Regions from separate parts of the Homo sapiens genome. Here region 1 is linked to region 2. The links come from fine-mapping of genetic effects on gene expression. A gene starts in region 2. The other region holds a variant in brackets. All regions are shown on one strand. Distances are between the middles of the regions. Region 1 has its middle 54 kb from the start of CD163. Region 2 holds the start of CD163 (CD163 molecule).

What was found. PIP is the estimated chance that this variant, and not a neighbour inherited with it, causes the effect.
Region 1: its variant is fine-mapped to the expression of CD163 in whole blood (TOPMed, PIP 0.98).

The regions. Positions count from the first base shown.
Region 1 is chr12:7,549,718-7,565,426 of GRCh38, reverse strand. No RefSeq gene overlaps it. Among named protein-coding and RNA genes, the nearest start is that of CD163, 54 kb to the right of the region's middle. RefSeq lists a silencer at 7,887-8,087. The variant A/T (reference allele first, on the strand shown) is at 8,027.
Region 2 is chr12:7,495,631-7,511,339 of GRCh38, reverse strand. It overlaps CD163 (CD163 molecule), which reads left to right and starts at 7,563. Exons shown (of 17, transcript NM_203416.4): 1 at 7,563-7,695; 2 at 8,776-8,862; 3 at 9,878-10,201; 4 at 12,152-12,472; 5 at 14,207-14,527. The coding sequence starts at 7,650. RefSeq lists an enhancer at 13,291-13,792.

The DNA.
Region 1 (15,709 bases), 54 kb before region 2:
AGACATATTTCTTTTTTTCTTTTTTTTAAATTATACTTTAAGTTCTAGGGTGCATGTGCACAACGCGCAGGTTTGTTACATATGTATATATGTGCCACGTTGGTGTGCTGCGCCCATTAACTCATCATTTACAGTAGGTATTTCTCCTAATGCTATCCTTCCCCCCTTCCCCCACCCCACAACAGGCCCCGGTGTGTGATGCTCCCCATCCTCTGTCCAAGTGTTCTTGTTGTTCAATTCCCACCTATGAGTGAGAACATGTAGTGTTTGGTTTTCTGTTCTTGCGATAGTTTGCTCAGAATGATAGCTTCCAGCTTCATCCATGTCCCTGCAAAGGACATGAATTCATCTTATTTTATGGCTGCATAGTATTCCATGGTGTATATGTGCCACATTTTCTTAATCCAGTCTATCATTGATGGACATTTGGGTTGGTTCCAAGTCTTTGCTATTGTGAATAGTGCCACAATAAACATACGTGTGCATGTGTCTTTATAGCAGCATGATTTATAATCCTTTGGGTATATACCCAGTAATGGGATGGCTGGGTCAAATGGTATTTCTAGTTCTGGATCCTTGTGGAATTGCCACACTGTCTTCCACAATGGTTGAACTGGTTTACAGTCCCACCAACAGTGTAAAACTGTTCCTATTTCTCCACATCCTGTACAGCATCTGTTGTTTCTTGACGTTTTAATGATTGCCATTCTAACTGGTGTGAGATGATATCTCATTGTGGTTTTGATTTGCATTTCTCTGATGGCCAGTGATGATGAGCATTTTTTCATGTGTCTGTTGGCTGCATAAATGTCTTCTTTTGAGAAGTGTCTGTTCATATCCTTTGCCCACTTTTTGATGGGGTTGTTTGTTTTTTTCTTGTAAATTTGTTTAAGTTCTTTGTAGATTCTGGATATTAGCCCTTTGTCAGATGGGTAGATTGTAAAAATTTTCTCCCATTCTGTAGGTTGCCTGTTCACTCTGATGGTAGTTTCTTTTGCTGTGCAGAAGCTCTTTAGTTTAATTAGATCCCATTTGTCAATTTTGGCTTTTGTTGCCATTGCTTTTGGTGTTTTAGACATGAAGTCCTTGCCCATGCCTATGTCCTGAATGGTATTGCCTAGGTTTTCTTCTAGGGTTTTTATGGCTTTAGGTCTAACATGTAAGTCTTTAATCCATCTTGAATTAATTTTTGTATAAGATGTAAGGAAGGGATCCAGTTTCAGCTTTCTACATATGGCTAGCCAGTTTTCCCATCACCACTTATTAAATAGGGAATGCTTTCCCCATTTCTTGTTTTTGTCAGGTTTGTCAAAGATCAGATGGTTGTAGACGTGTGGTATTATTTCTGAGGGCTCTGTTCTGTTCCATTGGTCTATATCTCTGTTTTGGTACCAGTACCATGCTGTTTTGGTTACCGTAGCCTTGTAGTATAGTTTGAAGTCAGGTAGCGTGATGCCTCCAGCTTTGTTCTTTTGGCTTAGGGTTGTCTTGGCAATGCGGGCTCTTTTTTGGTTCCATATAAACTTTAAAGTAGTTTTTTCTAATTCTGTGAAGAAAGTCATTGGTAGCTTGATGGGGATGGCATTGAATCTATAAATTACCTTGGGCAGTATGGCCATTTTCACGATATTGATTTTTCCTATCCATGAGCATGGAATGTTATTCCATTTGTTTGTGTCCTCTTTTATTTCATTGAGCAGTGGTTTGTAGTTCTCCTTGAAGAGGTCCTTCACATCCCTTGTAAGATGTATTCCTAGGTGTTTTATTCTCTTTGAAGCAATTGTGAATGGGAGTTCACTCATGATTTGGCTGTTTGTTATTGGTGTATAGGAATGCTTGTGATTTTTGCACACTGATTTTGTATCCTGAGACTTTGCTGAAGGTGCTTATCAGCTTAAGGAGATTTTGGGCTAAGACAATAAGGTTTTCTAAATATACAATCCTGTCATCTGCAAACAGGGGCAATTTGACTTCTTGTTTTCCTAATCGAACACCCTTTATTTCTTTCTTCTGCCTGATTGCCCTGGCCAGAACTTCCAACACTATGTTGAATAGGAGTGGTGAGAGAGGGCATCCGTGTCTTGTGCCAGTTTTCAAAGGGAATTCTTCCAGTTTTTGCCCATTCAGTATGATATTGGCTGTGGGTTTGCCATAAATAGCTCTTATTATTTTGAGATACGTCCCATCAATACCTAGTTTATTGAGAGTTTTTAGCATGAAAGGCTGTTGAATTTTGTCAAAGGCCTTTTCTGCATCTATTGAGATAATCATGTGTTTTTTGTCTTTGGTTCTGTTTATGTGATGGATGACGTTTATTGATTTGTGTATGTTGAACCAGCCTTGCATCCCAGGGATGAAGCCCACCTGATCATGGTGGATAAGCTTTTTGATGTGCTGCTGGTTTCCATTTGCCAGTATTTTATTGAGGATTTTTGCATCGATGTTCATCAGGGTTATTGGTCTAAAATTCTCTTTTTTTGTTGTGTCTCTGCCAGGCTTTGGTATCAGGATGATGCTGGCTTCACAAAATGAGTTAGGGAGGATTCCCTCTTTTTCTATTGATTGGAATAGTTTCAGAAGTAATGATACCAGCTCCTCTTTGTATCTCCGGTAGAATTCGGCTGTGAATCTGTCTGATCCTGGACTTTTTTTGGTTGGTAGGCTATTAATTATTGCCTCAATTTCAGAGCCTGTTATTGGTCTGTTCCAGGATTCAACTTCTTCCTAGTTTAAGTCTTGGGAGGGTGTTATGTGTTCAGGAATTTATCCATTTCTTCTAGATTTTCTAGTTCATCTGCATAGAGGTGTTTATAGTATTCTCTGATGGTAGTTTGTGTTTCTGTGGGATCAGTGGTGATAGCCCCTTTATCATTTTTTATTGCATCTATATGATTCTTCTCTCTTTTCTTCTTTATTCATCTTGCTAGTGGCCTATTTTGTTAATCTTTTAAAAAAAAACAGCTCTGGGATTCATTGATTTTTTGAAGGGTTTTTTGTGTCTCTATCTCCTTCAGTTCTGCTCTGATCTTAATTATTTCTTGCCTTCTCCTAGCTTTTGAATATGTTTTCTCTTGCTTCTCTATTCTTTTAATTGTGATGTTAGGGTGTCAATTTTAGATCTTTCCTGCTTTCTCTTGTGGGCATTTAGTACTATAAATTTCCCTCTACACACTGCTTTAAATGTGTCCCAGAGATTCTGGTATGTTGTGTCTTTGTTCTCATTGGTTTCAAAGAACATCTTTATTTCTGCCTTCATTTTGTTATGTACCCAGTAGTCATTCAGGAGCAGGTTGTTCAGTTTCCGTGTAGTTGAGCAGTTTTGAGTGAGTTTCTTTTTTTTTTTTTTTTTTTGAGACGGAGTCTCGCTCTGTCGCCCAGGCCGGACTGCAGACTGCAGTGGCGCAATCTCGGCTCACTGCAAGCTCCGCTTCCCGGGTTCACGCCATTCTCCTGCCTCAGCCTCCCGAGTAGCTGGGACTACAGGCGCCCGCCACCGCGCCCAGCTAATTTTTTGTATTTTTAGTAGAGACGGGGTTTCACCTTGTTAGCCAGGATGGTCTCGATCTCCTGACCTCATGATCCACCCGCCTCGGCCTCCCAAAGTGCTGGGATTACAGGCGTGAGCCACCGCGCCTGGCCTTGAGTGAGTTTCTTAATCCTGAGTTCTAGTTTGATTGCACTGTGGTCTGAGAGACAGTTTGCTATGATTTCTGTTATTTTACATTTGCTGAGGAGTGCTTTACTTCCAACTATGTGGTCAATTTTGGAATAAGTGCAATGTGGTGCTGAGAAGAATGTATATTCTGTTGATTTGGGGTGGAGAGTTCTGTAGATGTCTATTAGGTCTGCTTGGTGCAGAGTTGAGTTCAAGACCTGGATATCCTTGTTAACTTTTTGTCTCATTGATCTGTCTAATGTTGACAGTGAGGTGTTAAAGTCTCTCATCATTATTGTGTGGGAGTCTAAGTCTCTTTGTAGGTCTCTAAAGACTTTCTTTATGAATCTGGGTGCTCCTGTATTGGGTGCATATATATTTAGGATAGTTAGCTCTTCTTGTTGAATTGATCTCTTTACCATTATGTAATGGCCTTCTTTGTCTGGTTTTGATCTTTGTTGGTTTAAAGTCTGTTTTATCAGAGAGTAGGATTGCAACCCCTGCTTTTTTTTGTTTTCCATTTGCTTGGTAGATCTTCCTCCATCCCTTTATTTTGAGCCTATGTGTGTCTCTGCACGTGAGATGGATCTCCTGAAAGCAGCACACTGATGGGTCTTGACTGTTTATCTAATTTGCCAGTCTGTGTCTTTTAATTGGGGCATTTAGCCTATTTACTTTTAAGGTTAATATTGTTATGTGTGAATTTGATCCTGTCATTATGATGTTAGCTGGTTATTTTGCTCGTTAGTTGATGCAGTTTATTCCTAGAATTGATGTTGTTTACAATTTGTCATGTTTTTGCAGTGGCTGGTACTGGTTGTTCCTGTCCATTTTTAGTGTTTTCTCCAGGAGCTCTTGTAAGGTAGGCATGATGGTGACAAAATCTCTCAGCATTTGCTTGTCTGTAAAAGATTTTATTTCTCCTTCACTTATGAAACTTTCTTTGGCCGAATATGAAATTCTGGGTTGAAAATTCTTTCTTTAAGAATGTTGAATATTGGCCCCCACTCTCTTCTGGCTTGTAGGGTTTCTGCAGAAAGATCTGCCTTAGTCTGATGGGCTTCCCTTTGCAGGCAACCTGACCTTTCTCTCTGGCTGCCCTTAACATTTTTCGCATTAGCCAGGTGGCTATTTGGGGAACAATATTCAAGGAAAAGGGAACAGCCAATGCAAAAGCCCTAAATCAGGACTAAAAGTGGGGTGCTTGAGAACAGCAAGATGGCCAGTGTGGGTGGATATTAATAGATAGGGAAATAGTCAAAGAAGATTCAGAGAGGTGAGGAGAGTGGTGGTAGTCGTGGGGTGAGCTGGTTACTTCCCTATAGACTGGCCATTTTAAGTAACAGCTTTTATTCTGAATGAGATAGGGACCCTTTGAAGGGTTTTGAATTAACCAGTAACATGATCTGACATAAAATTTAAAAAGTTTACCCTGGTTATCTTGATGAGAATAGATACTTAGGAAAGGCAAAAGTAGTTAGGAGGCTGGAGTGGGATTCCAGGCAGGGGATGATGGTGACCCTGATCAGGATGATGTCAATGGATGTAGATGTATTTTGGAAGTGGTGCAAATGGGATTTCCTGAAGAATTGGATATGGAACATGGAAGTAAGAGAGGGATCAAGGATGACCCCGAGAATTTTGCCCTGAACACTGAAAATTGGTGGTGTTGCCATTAACATCCTTTTCATGTATGTGACAGGATCTATATTGGTAATACATGGATTTTACCCATTTATATCTTGTAATGTCTAATTATACTTAGATTAACAAAGTTCTTCCAAGAGATTTTACTTTCTGTTTCAGGTTGCCTTTTTAATTTTGTTTATGGAGTGGAGAAAGGATTAAAGCTGAGCTCCAATCTGAATTAGAATCAGTCCCCAGAAATACCCCATTCAGACTTACATAGCCATCCATCTTGGCATATTTCTTGAATTGTTGCTCATACTGGCTCTCTAACAATTTTTCTCCCAGCATCTAAGTCACATTCTTGATTTGATGGTCAAAATGATAGATGTCATTTGTCCTGTTCATAAAAACTGTCACAGAATAATAAGCCACTTTTCTTCAATAACAAATGTCTTTTTAACTTACCTGCCACATTTTTCCTTTTTATCAACTGACTTTTGTTATTATTGTTGGGCACTCGTTTTTCTGCCTACTTGTATGTCGAATTTATTGGTAAGACATGAAATGTATGAATGATTCTTCTCTTTTCTTATCCATTCTCTGAAGATTTTTACTTTCTTTTTTCAGTGCCTCCCCATAATGCCAGACACCTGAGGATTAGCTTTTTCAGAATAATCTCAAATTCATATTGAACTCTAAAACACTTGTGTACCCAAAAACTTGTGTACCAGTATTTGTAACCACATTGAAGATCCCTCTGATCTTCTCCAACCTATTTGCTTGGCAGAAAATCTGGAAGTCATCTACACCACTCCATTAGTGCCTGCATCCATTAACCAAATTTATTTACTTCTTTATTCTAATATCTATTAACTGTCTTCTCTTAATGTGCCCTTGCATTAATTCAGGCCCTTATCATTTTTCTTGAATTACTCCTGTACCACATACCACAAAACATTACTGATTTATAAGCTGTTCCTAGTTACTTCAACATTTAGGAATTGCAGAAGACATGTTTAGGGGCTCTTTTGTTTGGGAGAACTCCTCAATTACCCTCGATTATGCCAGGTGTTAAAACACTTAGCCAAAACTAGGGGGAAAAGCTCTGCAAAATAAAGCAAAATGATTATTTTTTATTGGTGTTGAGGTTACTATATATTAAATAATGACAGATTATTATATTTTTACTTGTAGGGGCCATGGTAAATATGTAATAACAGAGAGAGACCTCTGCTTTGAGTAGAAGCAAGTCCCAGAAACATGAGAAGGTTGGGGCTAAAAAGGGAGTTGTTGGTTCTCCACTAAAGAACCTCTATAACAGGGCAGTATTAATGGTCACAGGGCAAGGATTATCTGATATTCACTTTTAAGTTTTCTGTTTTCTCTTGCTTTCCTAATGAATTCTTTAAATCTTCATGAAAGGTTATTAGCAGCAATATTAGGAAGAAAAATGTATAAGAGAACAGAGGTGGTCCTAGAGAAGGGAGAAGGGATACTTTGAGAAGTGACCAAATCATGTAAACATTCACGGGAGAGTTTTGGAGATTCTAGGCAGAAGGACTGAGTTCTCTGCAGGACCACAGGATAAGGACTCAAATTACAGATAATTTACTATTAAACTGAAGACTTTTGTTGTTGTTGTTTTGGTTTGTTGTTGTGTTATTCTTGGTGGTGGGTTTTTTTTTTTTTTTTTTTTGAGACAGGCTCTTGCTCTGTCACTTAGGCTGGAGTGCAGTGGCACAATTATGATTCACTGCAGCCTTGAACTCCTGGGTTCAAGCAATCTTCCCACCTCAGCTGCCTAAATAGCTAGGACTACAGGCACACAGCACCACACCTGGCTAATTTTTCTATATTTTGTAGAGATGGGGTCTCACTGTATTGGCCAGGCTGATCTCAAACTTCTGGCCTCAGCAATCCTCCTGCCTTGGCCTCCCAAAATGCTGGGATTACAGTGAGCCACTGTGCCCAGCTAAACTAAAGATTAACTTTAGATATCGGGAGATTTCATAACCACTTGGAATACACACTTTGCTTTTCATTTTATTTTTTATTCTCCTTCTGGTTGTCTTTCTGTGTTTCAAACGTAACCATATTCCCCTGATAAATTACACATAGGGAGCCATATGCTATTTTAAAAAGTTATTTCTTTACTTTTAATATAAAATAAAATATATAGTACAGGTCAGTCAGAAATAAGTAAAGTATAATTCAATTTTTATCATTTCAGACCTTTTAATATATATATAGATATATGTAAAAATATAAATATGTGTAGGTATTTGTAAAATGTAATTATATATTTTAATGTTCTGCAACCTTCCTTTCTAACTTATAAAATAATACTGATTTTCTATATCAGCACCTAGAGTGTCATTATCATTTTTAATAGCTGCATAATAGTCTGTTGAATTGATGTCCTAAATTTTATTGAAAATTTTATTCTCTTATTGGATACACATTTATTTCAAAATTTTCACTACTATAAATAACTCTGCATATGTATCTTGTTCACTTGCTTCCTTAGGATCGATGCCTATTAATAAATTCTTAAATATTTTTGAATTAAGGATTTAATAATAATCACATGGGGAAAATCTATGCTTTGTACATTTTGTACTCAATTTTTATTGTGGATGTAAAAGGCTGAGGTTTTCAGCAAGTAACTGGATGTACTGTTTCTGGGTTTTGCAAGCAGCTGCCTTTAAAAAAGGGAAGCACATTACGCTCTTCCTTTAAAAA[A/T]CCGTTATGAAAACACTCATCTCTATGCTCATAAGCTTTAAAGAAACTTAACAAGGATGACCATAAATCTCACATACCACTTTTGGAATTTAATAGAAAGAATAAATTTGGTTGTTATCTGACATATTACTCCTTTTTTTTTCTACAGAGAATAGGAGAAAAGATTCTATACTATAAATAAGTGGTAACATTCTTCCATCTGGAGCATTGACAATAAAGAAATGATACAAATATTTCTGAAGCCCACTACATTCTCTTTGCCCATTTGTACTGGCACTTTTACTCTGGATTTAAGTTTTGCTTAGAGTTTACATTTTTTTTCTTCAGACTAAATGAAAGTTTCTGGTCTCTGAGATTGTGTTCTTCATGATGAAAATTCATTGTGCAATTTGCTTTTCTTTGCCATAAAGTTTTCTGGGATCTTTTTATAAAGAGTTTTCTAATCCTATCAGAATATGTTTAAATGGAAAGGAAAATGGGCATGGAGTCAAAGTGTCACTGTTTCAATCCTTGTTCTTCTACATAATACAATGTTGAGTACAGCATTTAACTTATTTAAGCCTCAGTTTTCTTATCTGCAAGATGCAGAAATTATTAATGATTTTATAAAGTGCCTGGCAAGATGAAAGGAGGCCATGTGCCTGAAAATGCACAGCATATGCCCTGGGTAAAGAATGGGTCCTCTGCGATTGTTAGTAGACAGGATTGGCTTGACTTCTGCAAAGGCCTTAGTTTTCTTTATTTTTTTCTTTTATATGTTAGAATTTGGTATTTGTGCTTCTTTGCTCCTGAAGCTATATTTTCCTTTTTCATGTTTAATATCTTATTATTATTATTATTTTGACAGAGTCTCACTCCGTCGCCCAGGCTGGAGTGCAGTGGCGTGATCTCAGCTCACTGCAACCTCCGCTTCCAGGGTTCAAGCTGTTCTCCTGCCTCAGCCTCCGGAGTAGCTGGGATTTACAGGCATGCGCCATCACACTCGGCTAATTTTTGTATTTTTAGTAGAGACGGGGTTTCACCATGTTGGCCAGGCTGGTCTCAAACTCCTGACCTCAGGCGATCCGCCCGCCTTGGCCTCCCAAAGTGCTGGAATTATAGGCGTGAGCCACCGCGCCCAGCCCTAATATCTGATTTTTAAAGTGACTTCTTAATTTTTAAAGGTCTAATTTTTTATAACTTTGATACATAGTTTCTAGACTTTATGATTTTGAAGAAGTAAAAAGACTTCTGCAATTCCCGTTTTCTCTCCTGAATATTCTTTCACTTTTGCCATTATTGAAATTACAAACTTACGGTGGCAATCCTGCTTTCTTATACAAGCATAGCACCAGCATTTTGATGAACCAAGAGGTGTGACATTTTGTCCTATATTTTTGCCTGATCACTACAACTGGGCTCCACTCCTGCCTCATATCCTGTTTCTATTTTTAACACTAAAGGAAACATTCTCATGTCCTAAGCAGTCTCTGTAATCTGATCAGTCTGTGCTTTCCCCCGACTTCAGTCATTCTAATTTCGTCACTATTTACTGGACCTACTTTTTAAATAGTCTTTATATCCTGCTTTGTTGTTCTTTTAACTTTAAATTCTTGGATTTAAAGTGCATTGAAGATTGAACTTCTTATTGTGTGCCACTTGGACCATGAAATAATTCAGTTACTAAAGCCAAAAAAAAACCCAAAGCAACAACAAAAAAAACCCACCATGGTTTAGAAGACACTTTTGGAAATGCAGTGAAACCACCATTTGAGAGGGACTCTGAGGGCAATTTATAATGTAATACTATCCCCTGCTTAAATACCTACAGGTTTTTTTTTTCTGTATCACTTATTTACTTATATAAGTATTTAAAATAAGAATATCTGACATTATTGAACTGGAATTTGTTGTGAACCTTCAATTAGAGTACCAAGAGCAGAGTTAATAGGTTCTTTTTTATATATATTCATAATATCATTCTTTGTGTAAATCTCATAACATCATTTGTAATTGCCTAGTCTCCAAATAAGATAGTAAATTCTTTTTTTATTTTTTATTTTTTATTTTTCTTTTTTTAAATTTCATTATTATTATACTTTAAGTTTTAGGGTACATGTGCACAACGTGCAGGTTTGTTACATAGGTATACATGTGCCATGCTGGTGTGCTGCACCCATTAACTCGTCATTTAGCATTAGGTATATCTCCTAATGCTATCCCTCCCCCCTTCCCCCACCGCACAACAGTCCCCGGTGTGTGATGTTCCCCTTCCTCTGTCCATGTGTTCTCATTGTTCAATTCCCACCTATGAGTGAGAACATGTGGTGTTTGATTTTTTGTCTTTGCGATAGTTTGCTGAGAATGATGGTTTCCTGCTTCATCCATGTCCCTGCAAAGGACATGAACTCATCATTTTTTATGGCTGCATAGTATTCCATGGTATATATGTGCCACATTTTCTTAATCCAGTCTATCATTGTTGGACATTTAGGTTGGTTCCAAGTCTTTGCTATTGTGAATAGTGCCGCTATAAACGTACGTGTGCATGTGTCTTTATAGCAGCATGATTTATAATCCTTTGGGCATATACCCAGTAATAGGATGGCTGGGTCAAATGGTATTTCTAATTCTAGATCCCTGAGGAATTGCCACACTGACTTCCACAATGGTTGAACTAGTTTACAGTCCCACCAACAGTGTAAAAGCATTCCTATTTCTCCACATCCTCTCCAGCACCTGTTGTTTCCTGACTTTTTAATGATCGCCATTCTAACTGGTGTGAGATGGTATCTCCTTGTGGTTTTGATTTGCGTTTCTCTGATGGCCAGTGACGATGAGCATTTTTTCATGTGTTTTTTGGCTGCATAAATGTCTTCTTTTGAGAAGTGTCTGTTCATATCCTTTGCCCACTTTTTGATGGGGTTGTTTTTTTCTTGTAAATTTGTTTGAGTTCATTGTAGATTCCGGATATTAGCCCTTTGTCAGATGAGCAGGTTGCAAAAATTTTCTCCCATTCTGTAGGTTACCTGTTCACTCTGATGGTAGTTTCTTTTGCTGTGCAGAAGCTCTTTAGTTTAATTAGATCCCATTGGTCTATTTTGGCTTTTGTTGCCATTGCTTTTGGTGTTTTAGACATGAAGTTCTTGCCCATGCCTATGTCCTGAATGGTATTGCCTAGGTTTTCTTCTAGGGTTTTTATGGTTTTAGGTCTAACATGTCAGTCTTTAATCCATCTTGAATTAATTTTTGTATAAGATGTAAGGAAGGGATCCAGTTTCAGCTTTCTACATATGGCTAGCCAGTTTTCCCAGCACCATTTATTAAATAGGGAATCCTTTCCCCATTGCTCGTTTTTGTCAGGTTTGTCAAAGATCAGATAGCTGTAGATATGCCACATTATTTCTGAGGGCTCTGTTCTGTTCCATTGGTCTATATCTCTGTTTTGGTACCAGTAGCATGCTGTTTTTGTTACTGTTACCTTGTAGTATAGTTTGAAGTCAGGTAGCGTGATGCCTCCAGCTTTGTTCTTTTGGCTTAGGATTGACTTGGCAATGCGGGCTCTTTTTTGGTTCCATATGAACTTTAAAGTAGTTTTTTCCAATTCTGTGAAGAAAGTCATTGGTAGCTTGATGGGGATGGCATTGAATCTATAAATTACCTTGGGCAGTATGGCCATTTTCATGATATTGATTCTTCCTACCCATGAGCATGGAATGTTCTTCCATTTGTTGGTATCCTCTTTTATTTCATTGAGCAGTGGTTTGTAGTTCTCCTTGAAGAGGTCCTTCACATCCCTTGTAAGTTGGATTCCTAGGTATTTTATTCTCTTTGAAGCAATTGTGAATGGGAGTTCACTCATGATTTGGCTCTCTGTTTGTCTGTTATTGGTGTATAAGAATGCTTGTGATTTTTGTACGTTGATTTTGTATCCTGAGACTTTGCTGAAGTTGCTTATCAGCTTGAGGAGATTTTGGGCTGAGATGATGGAGTTTTCTAGATATACAATCATGTCATCTGCAAACAGGGACAATTTGACTTCCTCTTTTCCTAATTGAATACCCTTTATTTCCTTCTCCTGCCTGATTGCCCTGGCCAGAACTTCCAACACTATGTTGAAAAGGAGTGGTGAGAGAGGGCATCCCAGTCTTGTGCCAGTTTTCAAAGGGAATGCTTCCAGTTTTTCCCATTCAGGATGATATTGGCTGTGGGTTTGTCATAGATAGCTCTTATTATTTTGAAATACGTCCCATCAATAATTTATTGAGAGTTTTTAGCATGAAGCGTTGTTGAATTTTGTCAAAGGCCTTTCCTGCATCTATTGAGATAATCATGTGGTTTTTGTCTTTGGTTCTGTTTATATGCTGGATTACATTTATCGATTTGGGTATGTTGAACTAGCCTTGCATCCCAGGGATGAAGCCCACTTGATCATGGTGGATAAGCTTTTCGATGTGCTGCTGGATTCGGTTTGCAAGTATTTTATTGAGGATTTTTGCATCAATGTTCATCAAGGATATTGGTCTAAAATTCTCTTTTTTGGTTGTGTCTCTGCCAGGCTTTGGTATCAGGATGATGCTGGCCTCATAAAATAATGAGTTAGGGAGGATTCCCTCTTTTTCTATTGATTGGAATAGTTTCAGAAGTAATGGTACCAGCTCCTCTTTGTACCTCTGGTAGAATTCGGCTGTGAATCCGTCTGGTTCTGGACTTTTTTTGGTTGGTAAGCTATTGATTATTGCCTCAATTTCAGAGCCTGTTATTGGTCTATTCAGATATTCAACTTCTTCCTGGTTTAGTCTTGGGTGGATGTATGTGTCCAGGAATTTATCCATTTCTTCTAGATTTTCTAGTTTATTTGCATAGAGGTATTTATAGTATTCTCTGATGGTAGTTTGTATTTCTGTGGGATCATTCGTGATATCCCCTTTATCATTTTTTATCGCATCTATTTGATTCTTCTCTCTTTTCTTCTTTATTAGTCTTGCTAGTGGTCTATCAATTTTGTTGATCTTTTCAAAAAACCAGCTCCTGGATTCATTAATTTTTTGAAGGGTTTTTTGTGTCTGTATTTCCTTCAGTTCTGCTCTGATCTTAGTTATTTCTTGCCTTCTGCTAGCTTTTGAATGTGTTTGCTCTTGCTTTTCTAGTTCTTTTAATTGTGATGTTAGGGTGTCAATTTTAGATCTTTCCTGCTTTCTCTTGTGGGCATTTAGTGCTATAAATTTCCCTCTACACAGTGCTTTGAATGTGTCCTGGAGATTCTGGTATGTTGTATCTTTGTTCTCATTGGTTTCAAAGAACATCTTTATTTCTGTCTTCATTTCATTATTTACCCAGTAGTCATTCAGGAGCAGGTTGTTCAGTTTCCATGTGGTTGAGTGGTTTTGAGTGAGTTTTTTTAATCCTGAGTTCTAGTTTGATTGCACTGTGGTCTGAGAGACAGTTTGTTATAATTTTTGTTCTTTTACATTTGCTGAGGAGTGCTTTACTTCCAACTATGTGGTCAATTTTGGAGTAGGTGTGGTGTGGTGCTGAAAAGAATGTATATTCTTTTGATCTGGGGTGGAGAGTTCTGTAGATGTCTATTAGGTCTGCTTGATGCACGGCTGAGTTCAGTTCCTGGGTATCCTTGTTAATTGTCTGTCTCGTTGATCTGTCTAATGTTGACAGTGGGGTGTTAAATTCTCCCATTATTATTGTGTGGGAGTCTAAGTTTCTTTGTAGGTCACTAAGGACTTGCTTTATGAATCTGGGTGCTCCTGTATTGGGTGCATATATATTTAGGATAGTTAGCTCTTCTTGTTGAATTGATCCCTTTACCATTATGTAATTGCCTTCTTTGTCTGTTTTGATCTTTGCTGGTTTAAAGTCTGTTTTATCAGAGACTAGGATTGCAACCTCTGCCTTTTTGTGTTTTCCATTTGCTTGGTAGATCTTCCTCCATCCCTTTATTTTGAGCCTATGTGTGTCTCTGCACATGAGATGGGTCTCCTGAAAGCAGCACACTGATGGGTCTTGACTCTTTATCCAATTTGCCAGTCTGTGTCTTTTAATTGGAGCATTTAGCCCATTTACATTTAAAGTTAATATTGTTATGTGTGAATTTGATCTTGTCATTATGATGTTAGCTGGTTATTTTGCTCATTAGTTGATGCAGTTTCTTCCTAGAATTGATGTTCTTTACAATTTGGCACGTTTTTGCAGTGGCTGGTACCACTTGTTCCTTTCCATGTTTAGTGGTTCCTTCAGGAGCTCTTTTAGGGCAGGCCTGGTGGTGACAAAATCTCTCAGCATTTGCTTGTCTGTAAAGTATTTTATTTCTCCCTCACTTATGAAGCTTAGTTTGGCTGGATATGAAATTCTGGGTTGAAAATTCTTTTCTTTCAGAATGTTCAATATTGGTCACCACTCTCTTCTGGCTTGTAGAGTTTCTGCTGAGAGATCAGCTGTTAGTCTGATGGGCTTCCCTTTGTGGGTAACCCAACCTTTCTCTCTGGCTGCCTTTAACATTTTTTCCTTCATTTCAACTTTGGTGAATCTGACAATTATGTGTCTTGGAGTTGCTCTTCTCAAGGAGTATCTTCTAAACTATAAGGTTTCCTACATTCTCAGGACTAAGATTTAGTGCTTTGGGGAGTTAATGATAATATAAGCCTCAAATATAATTGGAGATTTAAAAGGTGTTTTCTTTTTTTCTTTCTTTTTAAAAGAAAAAGAGTTTATTTGGCTCACAATTCTCATGGTGGCCAGAAACCTTGAGCATCTTCATCTGATGACAGCCTCAAGCTACTTCTGCTCATGGGGGAAGGCTAAGGAGAGCAGTGTGAAGAGATCACATGGTGAGAGAGGAAGAAAACAGGCAGGCAGGTTCAGCCTCTTTTTTTTTTTTAATTTTTACTTTTTGTGGGTACATAGTATGTGTATATATTTATGGGGTGCATGAGATATTTTGATACAGCCATACAATGCATGATAAACATAACAAGATATATGGAATATCCATCACCTCAAGCATTTACCATTTCTTTTTTTTTTTTTTTTACTTTTTATATGGACTTTTTTACTTAGTAATATACACTTAAAGTTTCTCTATGTTTTCCATAACTTGGTAACACATTTCTTTTAAGTGCTGATAAAATTCCAATGATTGAATATATCCAAGTCCCTTTATTCATTCACCTACTAATACAATTCCATTGATTGAATGTACCCGAGTTCATTTATACATTCATCTAGGACATTTTGTATGCCTCTAAATTTTGGCAGTGATGACTAGAGCTGCTATAAACATCCATGTGCAGGTTTTGCATAGACTTAAATTTTCTTGTTTTCTTTCTTTTTTAATACTTTAAGTTCTAGGGTACATGTGCACAATGTGCAGGTTTGTTACATAGGTATACATGTGCCATGTTGGTTTGCTGCATCCATCAACTCATCATTTACATTAGGTATTTCTCCTAATGCTATCCCTCCCCCAGACCCCCAACCCCTGACAGGCCCTGGTGTGTGATGTTTCCTGCCCTGTGTCCAAGTGATCTCATTGTTCAACTCCCACATATGAGTGAGAACATGTGGTGTTTGGTTTTCTGTCCTTGTGATGTTTGCTGAGAATGATGGTTTCCAGCTTCATCCATGTCCCTGCAAAGGACATGAAACCATCCTTTTTTACAGCTGCATAGTATTCCATGGTGTATATATGCC
Region 2 (15,709 bases):
AATACTCAAAGGGGACTCTACAGATATTCAGCTCTCTCTCCTTGCCTCCTCCCTACTCTCTCTCTCTCTCTCTTTCTTCTTGCAAGTTTCTCCTCTGTGAGACTATTTGCTGTGAATTCTAGCCACCTTAGTCTCCCAGATTCTCAGCTGCTTCTTCCCAACTCTGAGACTCCTCTGATCATTCTCTGGGTTTCCTATTCCATGGTAGCCTGGAAACTATCTCAAGGCAGTAAACTCAGCTTAGCTTCTCATCTCTCATGGATCACTATCTTTGAGATCCAGGCAACAACTCTTCTTGTTGCCTCATTTTCAGTGTCTTGAAAATCATTGTTACACATGTTTGGCTTTGTTTTTAGTTGTTTCTGGTGGGACAGTAAACACACTTCCTGTTTCTTCATTTTGAATAAAAGCAAAAATGTCTTGTTCACCTAGCTTTTTAATTTTGCACCAATCTATTTCTTCCATTTTTCTACTATATCTTTTCAATCGGGCTCTTATTCTATTAGATTTTTGCTATAATATTCACTTGCACTGCATTTAATCTTGCTCTTATTTCCATTTTTACCCTGGCCACCAATCATCCTCAAAGTTGCTACCAAGATGAGATATGTAAAAGACAAAGCAATTTAATACTCATGTTTCAAACTATTTAATGTCATTACTTGCCTACAGTGTAAAATTATAATTCTTTAACATGGTATATAAAACTCCTCTTCATGTAGTCCTTGTTTACCTCAGCAATAATAACAACATTGTCAACAACAACAACAAAATAGGTAATATTGAGCCTAGCATCTGGCAGGGACTGGTAGATATCTTTTTGAAAAAAACACAGTTCCTATCCTGGTATCTTAAGACTAGCAAGTAAGATAAACAATAAATATAAAAATATAATTGGGAGGGGTGGAGCCAAGATGGCCAAATAGGAACAGCTCCGGTCTACAGCTCCCAGTGTGAACAACGCAGAAGACGTGTGATTTCTGCATTTCCATCTGAGGTACTGGGTTCATCTCACTAGGGAGTGCCAGACAGTGGGTGCAGGATAGTGGGTGCAGCGCACTGTGCACAAACCGAAGCAGGGCGAGGCATTGCCTCACTAGAGAAGCGCAAGAGGTCAGGGAGTTCCCTTTCCCAGTCAAAGAAAGGGGTGACAGAGGGCACCTGGAAAATCAGGTCACTCCCACCCTAATACTGCGCTTTTCCAATGGGCTTAAAAAACAGCACACCAGGAGATTATATCCCGCACATGGCTCGGAGGGTCCTACACCCATGGAGTCTCACTGATTGCTAGCACAGCAGTCTGAGATCAAACTGCAAGGCAGCAGCGAAGCTGGGGGAGGGGCGCCTGCCATTGCCCAGGCTCGATTAGGTAAACAAAGCAGCTGGGAACCTCGAACTGGGTGGAGCCCACCACAGCTCAAGGAGGCCTGCCTGCCTCTGTAGGCTCCACCTCTGGGGGCAGGGTACAGACAAACAAAAAGACAGCAGTAACCTCTGCAGACTTAAATGTCCCTGTCTGACAACTTTGAAGAGAGTAGTGGTTCTCCCAGCACGCAGCTGGAGATCTGAGAATGTGCAGACTGCCTCCTAAAGTGGGTCCATGACCCCCGAGCAGCCTAACTGGGAGGCATCCCCCAGTAGGAGCAGACTGACACCTCACATGGCCGGGTGCTCCTCTGAGACAAAACTTCCAGAGGAACAATCAGGCAGCAGCATTTGCAGTTCACCAAGATCCGCTCTTCTACAGCCACTGCTGTTCTGCAGCCACTGCTGCTGATACACAGGCAAACAGGGTCTGGAGTGGACCTCCAGCAAACTCCAACAGACCTGCAGCTGAGGGTCCTGACTGTTAGAAGGAAAACTAACAAACAGAAAGGACATCTGCACCAAAAACCCTTCTGTACATCATCATCATCAAAGACCAAAAGTAGATAAAACCACAAAGATGGGGAAGAAACAGAGCAGAAAAACTGGAAACTCTAAAAAGCAGAGTGCCTCTCCTACTCCGAAGGAATGCAGCTCCTCACCAGCAATGGAACAAAGCTGGATGGAGAATGACTTTGACGAGCTGAGAGAAGAAGTCTTCAGATGATCAAACTACTCCGAGCTACAGGAGGAAATTCAAATCAATGGCAAAGAAGTTAAAAACTGTGAAAAAAAAATAGATGAATGGATAACTAGAATAACCAACGCAGAGAAGTCCTTAAAGGAGCTGATGGAGCTGAAAGCCAAGGCTCAAGAACTACGTGAAGAATGCAGAAGGCTCAGGAGCCAATGCGATCAACTGGAAGAAAGGTTATCAGTGATGGAAGACAAAATGAATGAAATGAAGTGAGAAGGGAAGTTTAGAGAAAAAAGAATAAAAAGAAACAAACAAAGCCTCCAAGAAATATGGGACTATGTGAAAAGACCAAATCTACGTCTGATTGGTGTACCTGAAAGTGATGGGGAGAATGGAACCAAGTTGGAAAACACTCTGCAGGATATTATCCATGAGAACTTCCCCAATCTAGCAAGGCAGGCCAACATACAGATTCAGGAAATACAGAGAACACCACAAAGATACTCCTCGAGAAGAGCAACTCCAAGACACATAATTGTCAGATTCACCAAAGTTGAAATGAAGGAAAAAATGTTAAGGGCAGCCAGAGAGAAAGGTCGGGTTACCCACAAAGGGAAGCCCATCAGACTAACAGCGGATCTCTCGGCAGAAACTCTACAAGCCAGAAGAGAGTGGGGGCCAATATTCAACATTCTTAAAGAAAAGAATTTTCAACCCAGAATTTCATATCCAGCCAAACTAAGCTTCATAAGTGAAGGAGAAATAACTTTATAGACAAGCAAATGCTGAGAGATTTTGTCACCACCAGGCCTGCCCTAAAAGAGCTCCTGAAGGAAGCACTAAACATAGAAAGGAACAACTGGTACCAGCCACTGCCAAAACATGACAAAATGTAAAGACTATCAAGGCTAGGAAGAAACTGCATCAACAGAAATCATAGTAAACTGTCTCTCAGACCACAGTGCAATCAAACTAGAACTCAGGATTAAGAAATTCACTCAAAACTGCTCAACCACATGGAAACTGAACAACCTGCTCCTGAATGACTACTGGGTAAATAATGAAATGAAGGCAGAAATAAAGATGTTCTTTGAAACCAACGAGAACAAAGACACAACATACCAGAATCTTTGGGACACATTCAAAGCAGTGTGTAGAGGGAAATTTATAGCACTAAATACCCACAAGAGAAAGCAGGAAAGATCCAAAATTGACACCCTAACGTCACAATTAAAAGAACTAGAAAAGCAAGAGCAAACACATTCAAAAGCTAGCAGAAGGCAAGAAATAACTAAAATCAGAGCAGAACTGAAGGAAATAGAGACACAAAAAACCTTTCAAAAAATTAATGAATCTGGGAGCTGGTTTTTTGAAAACGTCAACAAAATCGATAGACTGCTAGCAAGACTAATAAAGAAGACAAGAAAGAAGAATCAAATAGACGCAATAAAAATTGATAAAGGGGATATCACCACCGATCCCACAGAAATACAAACTACCATCAGAGAATACTACAAACACCTCTACGCAAATAAACTAGAAAATCTAGAAGAAATGGATAAATTCCTCGACACATACACCCTCCCAAGACTAAGCGAGGAAGAAATTCAATCTCTGAATAGACCAATAACAGGCTCTGAAATTGTGGCAATAATCAATAGCTTACCAACCAAAAAAAGTCCAGGAGCAGGTGGATTCACAGCCAAATTCTACCAGAGGTACAAGGAGGAGTTGGTACCATTCCTTCTGAAACTATTCCAATCAATAGAAAAAGAGGGAATCCTCCCTAACTCATTATTTTATGAGGCCAGCATCATCCTGATACCAAAGCCTGGCAGAGACACAACCAAAAAAGAGAATTTTAGACCAATATCCTTGATGAACATTGATGCAAAAATCCTCGATAAAATACTGGCAAACCAAATCCAGCAGCACATCAAAAAGCTTATCCACCATGATCAAGTGGGCTTCTTCGCTGGGATGCAAGGCTGGTTCAACATACTCAAATCAATAAATGTAATCCAGCATATAAACAGAACCAAAAACAAAAACCACATGATTATCTCAATAGATGCAGAAAAGGCCTTTGACAAAATTCAACAACGCTTCATGCTAAAAACTCTCAATAAATTATTGATGGGACGTATCTCAAAATAATAAGAGCTATCTATGACAAACCCACAGCCAATATCGTACTGAATGGGCAAAAACTGGAAGCATTCCCTTTGAAAACTGGCACAAGACTGGGATGCCCTCTCTCACCACTCCTATTCAAGATAGTGTTAGAAGTTCTGGCCATGGCAATTAGGCAGGAGAAGAAAATAAAGGGTATTCAATTAGGAAAAGAGGAAGTCAAATTGTCCCTGTTTGCAGATGACATGATTGTATATTTAGAAAACCCCATCGTCTCAGCCCAAAATCTCCTTAAGCTGATAAGCAACTTCAGCAAAGTCTCAGGATACAAAATCAATGTACAAAAATCACAAGCATTCTTATACACCAATAACAGACAAACAGAGAGCCAAATCATGAGTGAACTCCCATTCACAATTGCTTCAAAGAGAATAAAATACCTAGGAATCCAACTTACAAGGGATGTGAAGGACCTCTTCAAGGAGAACTACAAACCACTGCTCAATGAAATAAAAGAGGATACCAACAAATGGAAGAACCTTCCATGCTCATGGGTAGGAAGAATCAATATCATGAAAATGGCCATACTGCCCAAGGTAATTTATAGATTCAATGCCATCCCCATCAAGCTACCAATGACTTTCTTCACAGAATTGGAAAAAACTACTTTAAAGTTCATATGGAACCAAAAAAGAGCCCACATCCCCAAGTCAATCCTAAGCCAAAAGAACAAAGCTGGAGGCATCACGCTACCTGACTTCAAACTATACTACAAGGCTACAGTAACCAAAACAGCATGGTACTGGTACCAAAACAGAGATATAGATCAATGGAACAGAACAGAGCCCTCAGAAATAATGCCGCATATCTACAACCATCTGATCTTTGACAAACCTGACAAAAACAAGCAATGGGGAAAGGATTCCCTATTTAATAAATGTTGCTGGGAAAACTGGCTAGCCATATGTAGAAAGCTGAAACTGGATCCCTTCCTTACACCTTATACAAAAATTAATTCAAGATGGATTAAAGACTTACATGTTAGACCTAAAACCATAAAAACCCTAGAAGAAAACCTAGGCAATACCATTCAGGACATAGGCATGGGCAAGGACTTCATATCTAAAACACCAAAAGCAATGGCAACAAAAGCCAAAATAGACAAATGGGATCTAATTAAACTAAAGAGCTTCTGCACAGCAAAAGAAACTACCATCAGAGTGAACAGGAAATCTACAAAATGGGAGAAAATTTTCGCAACCTACTCATCTGACAAAGGGTTAATATCCAGAATCTACAATGACCTCAAACAAATTTACAAGAAAAAAACAAACAACCCCATCAAAAATTGGCGAAGGATATGAACAGATACTTCTCAAAAGAAGACATTTATGCAGCCAAAAAACACATGAAAAAATGCTCATCATCACTGGCCATCAGAGAAATGCAAACCAAAACCACAACGAGATACCATCTCACACCAGTTAGAATGGTGATCATTAAAAAGTCAGGAAACAATAGGTGCTGGAGAGGATGTGGAGAAATAGGCATGCTTTTACACTGTTGGTGGGACTGTAAACTAATTCAACCATTGTGGAAGTCAGTGTGGCAATTCCTCAGGGATCTAGAACTAGAAATACCATTTGACCCAGCCATCCCATTTCTGGGTATATACCCAAAGGATTATAAATCATGCTGCTATAAAGACACATGCACACGTACGTTTATAGCGGCACTACTCGCAATAGCAAAGACTTGGAACCAACCCAAATGTCCATCAATGATAGACTGGATTAAGAAAATGTGGCACATATATACCATGGAATACTATGCAGCCATAAAAAATGATGAGTTCATGTCCTTTGTAGGGACATGGATGAAACTGGAAACCATCATTCTCAGCAAACCATCGCAAGGACAAAAAACCAAACACCACATGTTCTCACTCATAGGTGGGAATTGAACAATGAGAACACATGGACACAGGAAGGGGAACATCCCACTCCAGGGACGGTTGTGGGGTCAGGGGAGGGGGGAGGGATAACATTAGGAGATATACCTAATGCTAAATGACGAGTTAATGGGTGCAGCACACCAGCATTGCACATGTATACATACGTAACAAACCTGCATGTTGTGCACATGTATCCTAAAACTTAAAGTATAATAATAATTTAAAAAAAGGAAAAAAATATATATATAATTGACAACCCTCATAAGTACAGGCTATCATGAGTGCATATTTTCTGGGGTCTTTCAGCGTTAGAGTTATTTCTCCTAGTGAAGGGAGGTTTAACTGAGAAATAAAGTATACGTGAGTGAGAGTTATCTTAGAGAAAGGTACGGGTAGGGAGGCAGTAAACACAGAAGGAACAATATGTATGACATACCATGAGGCAGGGAGAGATTTGGCATGCCTGAGAAGTGGAAGAAAACTGGGGTGCCTTTGTTGACTGGGTTCTAGTGAATGTCTCTCTGGAAGGCTGGAGTTGCTCTTTAATTCCCCATTTCAGGCCCATCACTAACACCTGACAATATGTATGCCATGATGAACTATTAGTAGTTCTTTTGAGCTTATATGTTTTTATATACAAATATTCATTTGTATGTGCTATTTTTTATGCCTTAAACTCCTTTATCATTTGTCCCTTTGGCAATGTTTTTCTCATCTTTTAGGACACAATTTAAGCCTGTCCTCAGAGAAAATAGTTTTCTGACTGTTCATTCCTTTCTCTCAATAGATAGGACTACTTTGTCCATTATTTTTAACACTGCACTTTAGCTTTATGTTCATTGTTGTTATCATATGTGTTTCTCTTACTTGAATCTGAGTTATATAGAGCTAAAATCATGTGTTGCTAATTTTTGTTTCACCATTTGTAATATCAGTAATAGTCATGGCTAATTCTCTTGGTGTACTTCATCCCATTAGAAAAGAAATGACAAATGCTGTGTCTCAACAACTTACACAAAATTACTCATTAGACACATTTGATTATGGAAATAAAATTAAAAGTGCATATGATAAAATGTTATTTAATTATGTTTTGCCTGTTTTGCTTTAGTTTTTTACATAATTTTTCTACATGACAATTAGTAATTTTTTGTGTCTTATATATTTGTCCAAAATGAAGTTCAAAAATGTAAAATATTTAATTCAGCAACAGCAGCATATGAGTTAGTATTTCCTCTAATTTTTCGAAATCTGTGGGAAGTGTTTCCCAATTTCCTTTGGTTGTTTCATGTGCTATATTGAAGAAAACATGAGTATGAAATGGAACCTCAGCTCTTTCAATGACTTCCCTTTTTGAGTTGACTCCGCCTCCATATGTAGCCTTTTCATTTTCATGAAAGTGAAGTGATTTTTAGAATTCTTAGTTGTTTTCTTTAGAAGAACATTTCTAGGGAATAATACAAGAAGATTTAGGAATCATTGAAGTTATAAATCTTTGGAATGAGCAAACTCAGAATGGTGCTACTTGAAGACTCTGGATCTGCTGGTAAAAGCTTCTCATTTATTCTACATTTCCCCTTTAATGGGGTATGTAATTATTATGACAGTCAATGGATGTGATTTAAAAGTGATTGGCATCAGGAGAGTAAGGAGTGGAAAAAGGACATAGGCTTATATGGCAGCACCTTTGATCTGCCATAGATTCAAAATTGAAGATGTGATATGGGAATCAGAGTCGGCATTAATTTTGTAAAACTGCTGAGGTGAAATTAAGTCAGGAACTAAAGTTAACTGAAATGTACTGAGTATGAAAAAATAGTTGTTAGAAAAGATAGAATATGCAGAAAGGAATATTGATAGAGAGTTAATTACATAAAGAAAGTTATCTACTCTGATAAGTGAGTTATCTATTTTAAGACTTATTTGGACATGTTAAAATCATTTAGCATTTTTAGTTTTAAATTAGTGTTGGGTTAGAGTAACGAGAAGATATGAGAGTAATAACAGCATTAAAGAGTGTATTATGTGATAAGGATACAGGTAGAGATGACAAGATTTAATATTTGAGTTTTTCAGATATGGATATCATCACTTAGGTATTGTTCTGCTAGCTACTATTTGGCAAGCATCAAGCCAGGTACTGGTGAAATTATGGTGAACATGATAGATATAATTCGTTTACTCATGGAACTTATCCTCTATCAGTGCGGCTAGGTAGTCTTAAAGATGGGGGCATCCATAATTGAATATCAAGGTGGTTAGGGAATAGAGAAATCTCAGGATACCTTCCCTGTGCCTGCTGGGAGAATTGTCCACTACTAAGTTTCATTGATGTTGTTTCCATTTTCCAGGTTTTAAGGGTTGACCTTGCAATTCTCGTTTCCACCACCAACCTTCTGCTAATCCGTCACCTCTAGGTTGCCTATAAACATGAACATTTTCAAAACCATTTCACTGAAACTATATGAGCCTGGGTATGAATGTTTTCTGCCTGCCTTGCAATTTAGAATGAAGAGTTTTCTGTCTTGGTTTGAGCTTCTTTGTTAATTAACCTCTGAAACCATCTATCTTCTCCAAAGTCTCTTTTTGGGAAGATGCTACTTTTGCCCTCTTTTCTTTTTCACAGACTTCAGAAGACATTTTGTCAACTTGAGTCCCTTCACCATTACTGTGGTCTTACTTCTCAGTGCCTGTTTTGTCACCAGTTCTCTTGGTGAGTACTTTGTCAAATTTACTTACAGCCTTAGCCCACTCTGACAAGAACAGTTAAAAGGCAAACAATTTTTCTGAAGGCCAAGTAGCATCTAAAAACTAGGTGACATGCTCCATGTATTCAAAGGATCAGATATTATTAAAAGCACACAATAAAAATCTAACCAAAATATTAGCATGGTTCCTCACCAAATGAAATAAACTCACAGGAGAGAAATGAATTTTACTTAAAGATTAGAAATAATGTTGAACTGAAAAATAGGAAAGAATACAAAGGAGGAGAAACTTCAGAATCATTAAAACAAAAGTGAATTTGGGAAACACATTAGTAAATTCAAATGCCAAAATTTATCTAAAAATGTATTGAGAGATGCCAGGTTGGTGGGACCAGATTCCTACATAAAGCTAAAATAATGCCAAGGAGGCAACTGAGATCATCTATCATCTGGGGATGGGAAGAGAGTACAAAGAGGTTTATTTTATGGTAGAAAATAGCAGAAAATATCTCCATCTTAATTTTAGATAAGTTTCAGTCTAGCGTTTTTAAGATTTATGCTATTTTACATATACGTATGAAATAAGAGTTAAATTTCTTACAACTAGTCTTTTCATCTTCATAAATTCTCTATCAGCCTTCTTTCTATCGACCTTAGGATTTTGGAGAAATGTAAAAAGTTCATCCCCATAACGTTTTGTAGCATCTTATTTAACTCGAAAATGCTTCACAGGAATTATATAAATTGCCACTATTAAGGCTATCCAGCCATAAAATAAAGCTATTAAACACTATTGTGTTACTTACCTTTACTGGTCATATAGCACTGCTTAATTTGAAACCAGTGATACTGATACTTATATTTGAATGACTGTGAAATAACATTCTTCTGTTTTACCATGGATAGGACTAGGATGGTTCTCAAATCTGAGTTTGAAGGATAAATAAGTAATGTAAAAAAATAATTTTCTACTTGCTCTTTGCGACCTTGGCCAATTACTGTCTTAATCCATTGTTGCAGGAGGAACAGACAAGGAGCTGAGGCTAGTGGATGGTGAAAACAAGTGTAGCGGGAGAGTGGAAGTGAAAGTCCAGGAGGAGTGGGGAACGGTGTGTAATAATGGCTGGAGCATGGAAGCGGTCTCTGTGATTTGTAACCAGCTGGGATGTCCAACTGCTATCAAAGCCCCTGGATGGGCTAATTCCAGTGCAGGTTCTGGACGCATTTGGATGGATCATGTTTCTTGTCGTGGGAATGAGTCAGCTCTTTGGGATTGCAAACATGATGGATGGGGAAAGCATAGTAACTGTACTCACCAACAAGATGCTGGAGTGACCTGCTCAGGTAAGACTTGCATTAGTCAAAGCCTCAACACAAAATCCTTGGTGGGAAAAAAATATGTAGATGGGTTAAAACCTAGAATAAGCCACTTTCCTGTAAGCAATCTAGTTCATGTATAAAAGTACTCCATCCATTGCTAGAAAACCACAAAACACGAGGTCATTTTTTTTTAATAAAAAAAATTCTGAACACTGTGATTAATGAGGAGGTGACTGGCTTCAATTTTATACATGATCTTAGCCAAAAAGCCAAGAAGTGGTGGTTTAAATTTGATATTCAGTAAGCTTACTGTAACCTACTATTCCTATATCATAAAAATATCATGACATCTAAGTTATTTCCTTGTTCTTTCCCAGTGACTTGTTTTGATATGTTGACCCACAAATTATTACCATTTTGTCCATTAACTGATAATCAACTTAGTAAATCAAAAAACAACTATTTCTAGCATTAATACATCATTTCTTGTTGTAGGAAGGATTCTTTGAAAGTATAATTGCTTGACCAGTGTGCAATGCTAGTCATTTCATTTACATTGTGCTTTTAATTTACAAAACATCTCCATATGTTTTATTGCAATTGACCCCACAATAACTGAGAAAGTCATGTGTCAGGCCTTTCTGCTGACAAATCCCAAGGGCACATTTCTGATCCAACTCAGATTCCTGGGATCCCCATTTCTTTTTGTTTGTTTCATTCCTTTTTTTTTTTTTTTTTTTTGGGACGAATTGTCGCTCTTGTCCCCCAGGCTGGAGTGCGATGGCGCTATCTCGGCTCACTGCAACCTCCACCTCCCGGGTTCAAGCAATTCTCCTGCCTCAGTCTCCCGAGTAGCTGGGATTATAGGCACCTGCCACCACACCTGGCTGATTTTTGTATTTTTAGTAGAGACAGGGTTTCACCATATTGGCCAGGCTGGTCTCGAACTCCTGAGCTCAGGTGATCCACCTGCCTCGGCCTCCCAAAATCCTGGGATTACAGGTGTGAGCCACCGTGACTGGCCTGTTTCATTAATTTTTATACAATCCTCTCACCTCCCAGCCTCTCTCTCTCCCATAGGACTGACTATAGAAAGGACTTATCTCTGTCCAGGCATCATGATGTGATAAGAGAAACACACAGTAGCATCTAGAAAAATGCTGAAATAAATTTTCACATAGCTAATATCCTGTGATTTTGTGCAAGTTGTCAAATCTCTCTAAACTTCAGTTTCTGAGGATTCAATGATATAATACATGTAAAACTACTGGTACACTGTTTGGTATGTAACAGGTGCTGAAGATCCTCATGGCTCAGTTCTCTTGGTGACTCAGTTCTCTTTCTTCTTTCTCCGCTTCCTCTTCCTCTTCCTTCTCCTCCTTCTCCTCCTTCTTTCCTCTTATTTTTAACCACTATGGGAGGTGTGAAATGGGGAATAACAAAAGTAACATCTACTGCAAAGTTTAAAATTATCATAAATTTTAGCAGGCTCTTATCATAATTATTGCTGTGTATAGAACTGGCTGTTTAGCTAAAACAGTGTAGTACTTTTAGCTCTTTTTTTCTGTTGTTTTATAACTACCAGTGGAGTTAATCAATTTGCTTTTTGAAATTTATACACTTAAAGCTTTAACCTGAGTCAAATTTAAATAACTTGAGTCGAATTTATCTATTTCTGTACAAAAAAGAGTATTTACATCTGTCCTAGTAATAGATGGAAACAAAACAAAACAGAAAGTTTAAAAACTTTAACCTGTAAACATTTTCCTTTGTAAGTAGATATAGATAAAAATCCTAATTGCTTCCTAGATTTTAACATATTAAAATTCTCTACCGTGTGGAGCTGGGCAATGTCCAAAATCAGGCACCATTTTAAGGACAACATAAAATCCCAAGTGTCCAGAGGAAACTTCTTTTCTAAAATCACTTCTAAATGAATGTAACTTCTGAACTCTGGTCTTTTCTCTGCTCCAGATGGATCCAATTTGGAAATGAGGCTGACGCGTGGAGGGAATATGTGTTCTGGAAGAATAGAGATCAAATTCCAAGGACGGTGGGGAACAGTGTGTGATGATAACTTCAACATAGATCATGCATCTGTCATTTGTAGACAACTTGAATGTGGAAGTGCTGTCAGTTTCTCTGGTTCATCTAATTTTGGAGAAGGCTCTGGACCAATCTGGTTTGATGATCTTATATGCAACGGAAATGAGTCAGCTCTCTGGAACTGCAAACATCAAGGATGGGGAAAGCATAACTGTGATCATGCTGAGGATGCTGGAGTGATTTGCTCAAGTAAGGACTGATCTTGGCTCATTCTATTCTCCAGGAGAGGACAAAAGAAAGGGGTAATAAATCTTAAGAGCCTGAACTCTTAAGAACATAATGAAGTCTGCTTCTTTTGTCACCGCATTTTAACCTAACTTCAGGTTCCAGTTCTGATACCTGTGGACTTTTTACCTTAACTGAAATTAGGAGAAATAGGTTAGGGAAGTGCATAGTGAAACTGAGATCCAGGTCATAAGAAAAGAAGAAAGTGTTTAGGAAAAGCCCATAAAGAAAGGGAGAGACCGAAAAGAAAAAGAGGGGAAAAAGGAAAGAAGGAAGGGCTTTACTAGGATATTTTGCACTATGAAGTTTTATGACCAAACCACTCCAGTTATCATCTAATCCACAAAAGCCTCCTCATTAGCCTCATTAACCCACTCCTTCCCAAATCATTTTTCAAGTTCACAGAATCGAATCACTTGTTAAAAATCAATATTGGTTTCTCATTAAAACTTTATTTATACTAGATATGCATTGTATCTGTCTAGAGACTTTCACGTTGTATACTCAGACTGGGGGCGGGGAAAATCGTTTGTGTGTGCAGAGATACCACTCTTCGTTTTTCTGTTGAATTCTTAGTATAAAAGGAGATTGAGTGTGTCTTGAACCCCAGAGAACACTTAGGAAAATAAGAGTAAAAAATCCCTATCTTCACCAGATCCCTTTCTCTCTCTCTCTCTCTCTCTCTGTGTGTGTGTGTGTGTGTGTGTAAATAAAGGAACTTCCATTCAAACTTGTTTAAAAAGAAGAGAATACTGGCTCACAAAACTGGGAAATCCAGAGGGTATAGTTAGCCTCATGCATGGTTGGATTCAGGTTCTTGAACAATGTCATCTGGGTTCTATCTCTTTCTGCATGTCTTGAACAAGCTTTTTCTTGTTGAACAATGTGATCAGCTATAGCCTGAACCACAATGAATGGAACTCCTACAAGAAAGATAGATTTTGTTAGGTTAAGAATGTGAAGAATTTGGAGTAGAAAAAACACAGACTGTACCTTCCATTCTCTTTTACCCATCAACATTTCTCTAGGCCCCCAGTTAGCACATGCTGACGAATCACAATCCCACAATGAATAACATTGTGGGAATGAAAACGGAAACTGCCAGAGGAAACAACCAGTTTAATTTATTACAGAATATTCTTCAGAATCAACGTCTGTTCTTTGAAGAATATTGATTTGGGGAAGGTGAAAATTGTAGTACTGAAGCCTCCTTTCTCTTTGCTCTGCTTTTAAACTAAGGAAGTGGTCACAACAGGTTCAGGTGTACAACACAGGCTAGGTAGTATCAATGGAGAATGCAGTCAGAGGCAAAAGGGATTGCTAAGTATGGAGGCAAACTGAAGGATGAGGGAGTCACCTAAACACATGCAAATATATTTTAACCAGAAAAAGTAAACAGTTCTAACAAGAACTCTGTGGTGGTCAAATAGCAGGTCTCTAGATGAAATTCAGTCCCTGTATCTCCTGTTAGAAACACTTCCTGTAGTATATGCTGTCTATACTGAGATGTCCCATCTTCTTGCCTGATCCACTCCTCCTTCCATCTTGAATGATTTCCAGTGGTAGTACAGTACATCACAGTTTTCTCTGTCTCCACTTATATCTCTCCCCTTTTCCTTAACTCATCTCAGGTATAGCTATTTATAGTCTCATGTTCTTGCTTCCTTATCGCAGACCTGTTGTGTGTCTCTGTTACAGAGGGAGCAGATCTGAGCCTGAGACTGGTAGATGGAGTCACTGAATGTTCAGGAAGATTAGAAGTGAGATTCCAAGGAGAATGGGGGACAATATGTGATGACGGCTGGGACAGTTACGATGCTGCTGTGGCATGCAAGCAACTGGGATGTCCAACTGCCGTCACAGCCATTGGTCGAGTTAACGCCAGTAAGGGATTTGGACACATCTGGCTTGACAGCGTTTCTTGCCAGGGACATGAACCTGCTATCTGGCAATGTAAACACCATGAATGGGGAAAGCATTATTGCAATCACAATGAAGATGCTGGCGTGACATGTTCTGGTAAGTTAAAACCAAACCAAAACCAAAACACTAAACAAAAAGAAAAGCAGAAACGGAAAGTCCTGTGCTCCTTAAGAGTAGGAACGTGCTCCTTAAGAAGTAGAAATGCCTAGTAAATTCCTTGCTGGGAATTCCTTTATACCTGTAATCTTTGACACATTCTTTATTCAACTAGTTTGGAAGGTTGTCTGACGGCATTCTCTGTAATAATTACTCAGACTGCTTTTATGGAGCACACTTCAAACTCAGAATCTACCTGGAGCTCAGAGAGACAAAATTTCCTAGGAATCTGTTTTTAAATTTTTTTAATTTACTTATTTTTTTACTTTAAGTTCTGGGATAGATGTGTTGAATGTGCAGGTTTGTTACATGGGTAAACATGTTCCATGGTGGTCTGCTTCACGTATCAACCTGTCATCTAGGTTTTAACCCCCCATGCATTAGGTATTTGTCCTAATGCTCTCCCTCCCCTTTCCCCCCACCCATTGACAGGCCCCAGTGTGTGATGTTCCCCTCCCTGTGTCCGTGTGTTCTCATTGTTCAACTCCCAGTTATGAGTGAGAACATGCAGTGTTTGGTTTTCTGTTCTTGTGTGTTAGTTTGCTGAGGATGATGGTTTCTAGCTTCATCTGTGTCCCTTCAAAGGACATAAACTCATTCTTTTTTATGGCTGCGTAGTATTCCATGGTGTATATGTACCACATTTTCTTTATCCAGTCTATTATTGATGGGCATTTGGGTTGGTTCCAAGTCTTTGTTATTGTAGATAGTGCTGCAATAAACATACATGTGCATGTGTCTTTATAGTAGAATGATTTATAATCCTTTGGGTATATACCCAGTAATGGGATCGCTGGGTCAAATGGTATTTCTAGTTCTAGATCCTTGAGGAATCACCACACTGTCTTCCATAATGGTTGAACTAATTTACACTCCCACCAACAGTGTAAAAGCTTTCCTATTTCTCTACATCCTTGCCAACATCTGTTGTTTCCAGACTTTTTAATGATCGCCATTCTAACTGGGATGAGATGGTATCTCATTGTGATTTTGATTTGCATTTCTCTAATGACCATTGTTGATAAGCTATTTTTCATATGTTTGTTGTCCGCATAAATGCCTTCTTTTCAGAAGTGTCTGTTCATACCCTTCACCCACTTTTTGAGGAATCTCTTTTAAAGC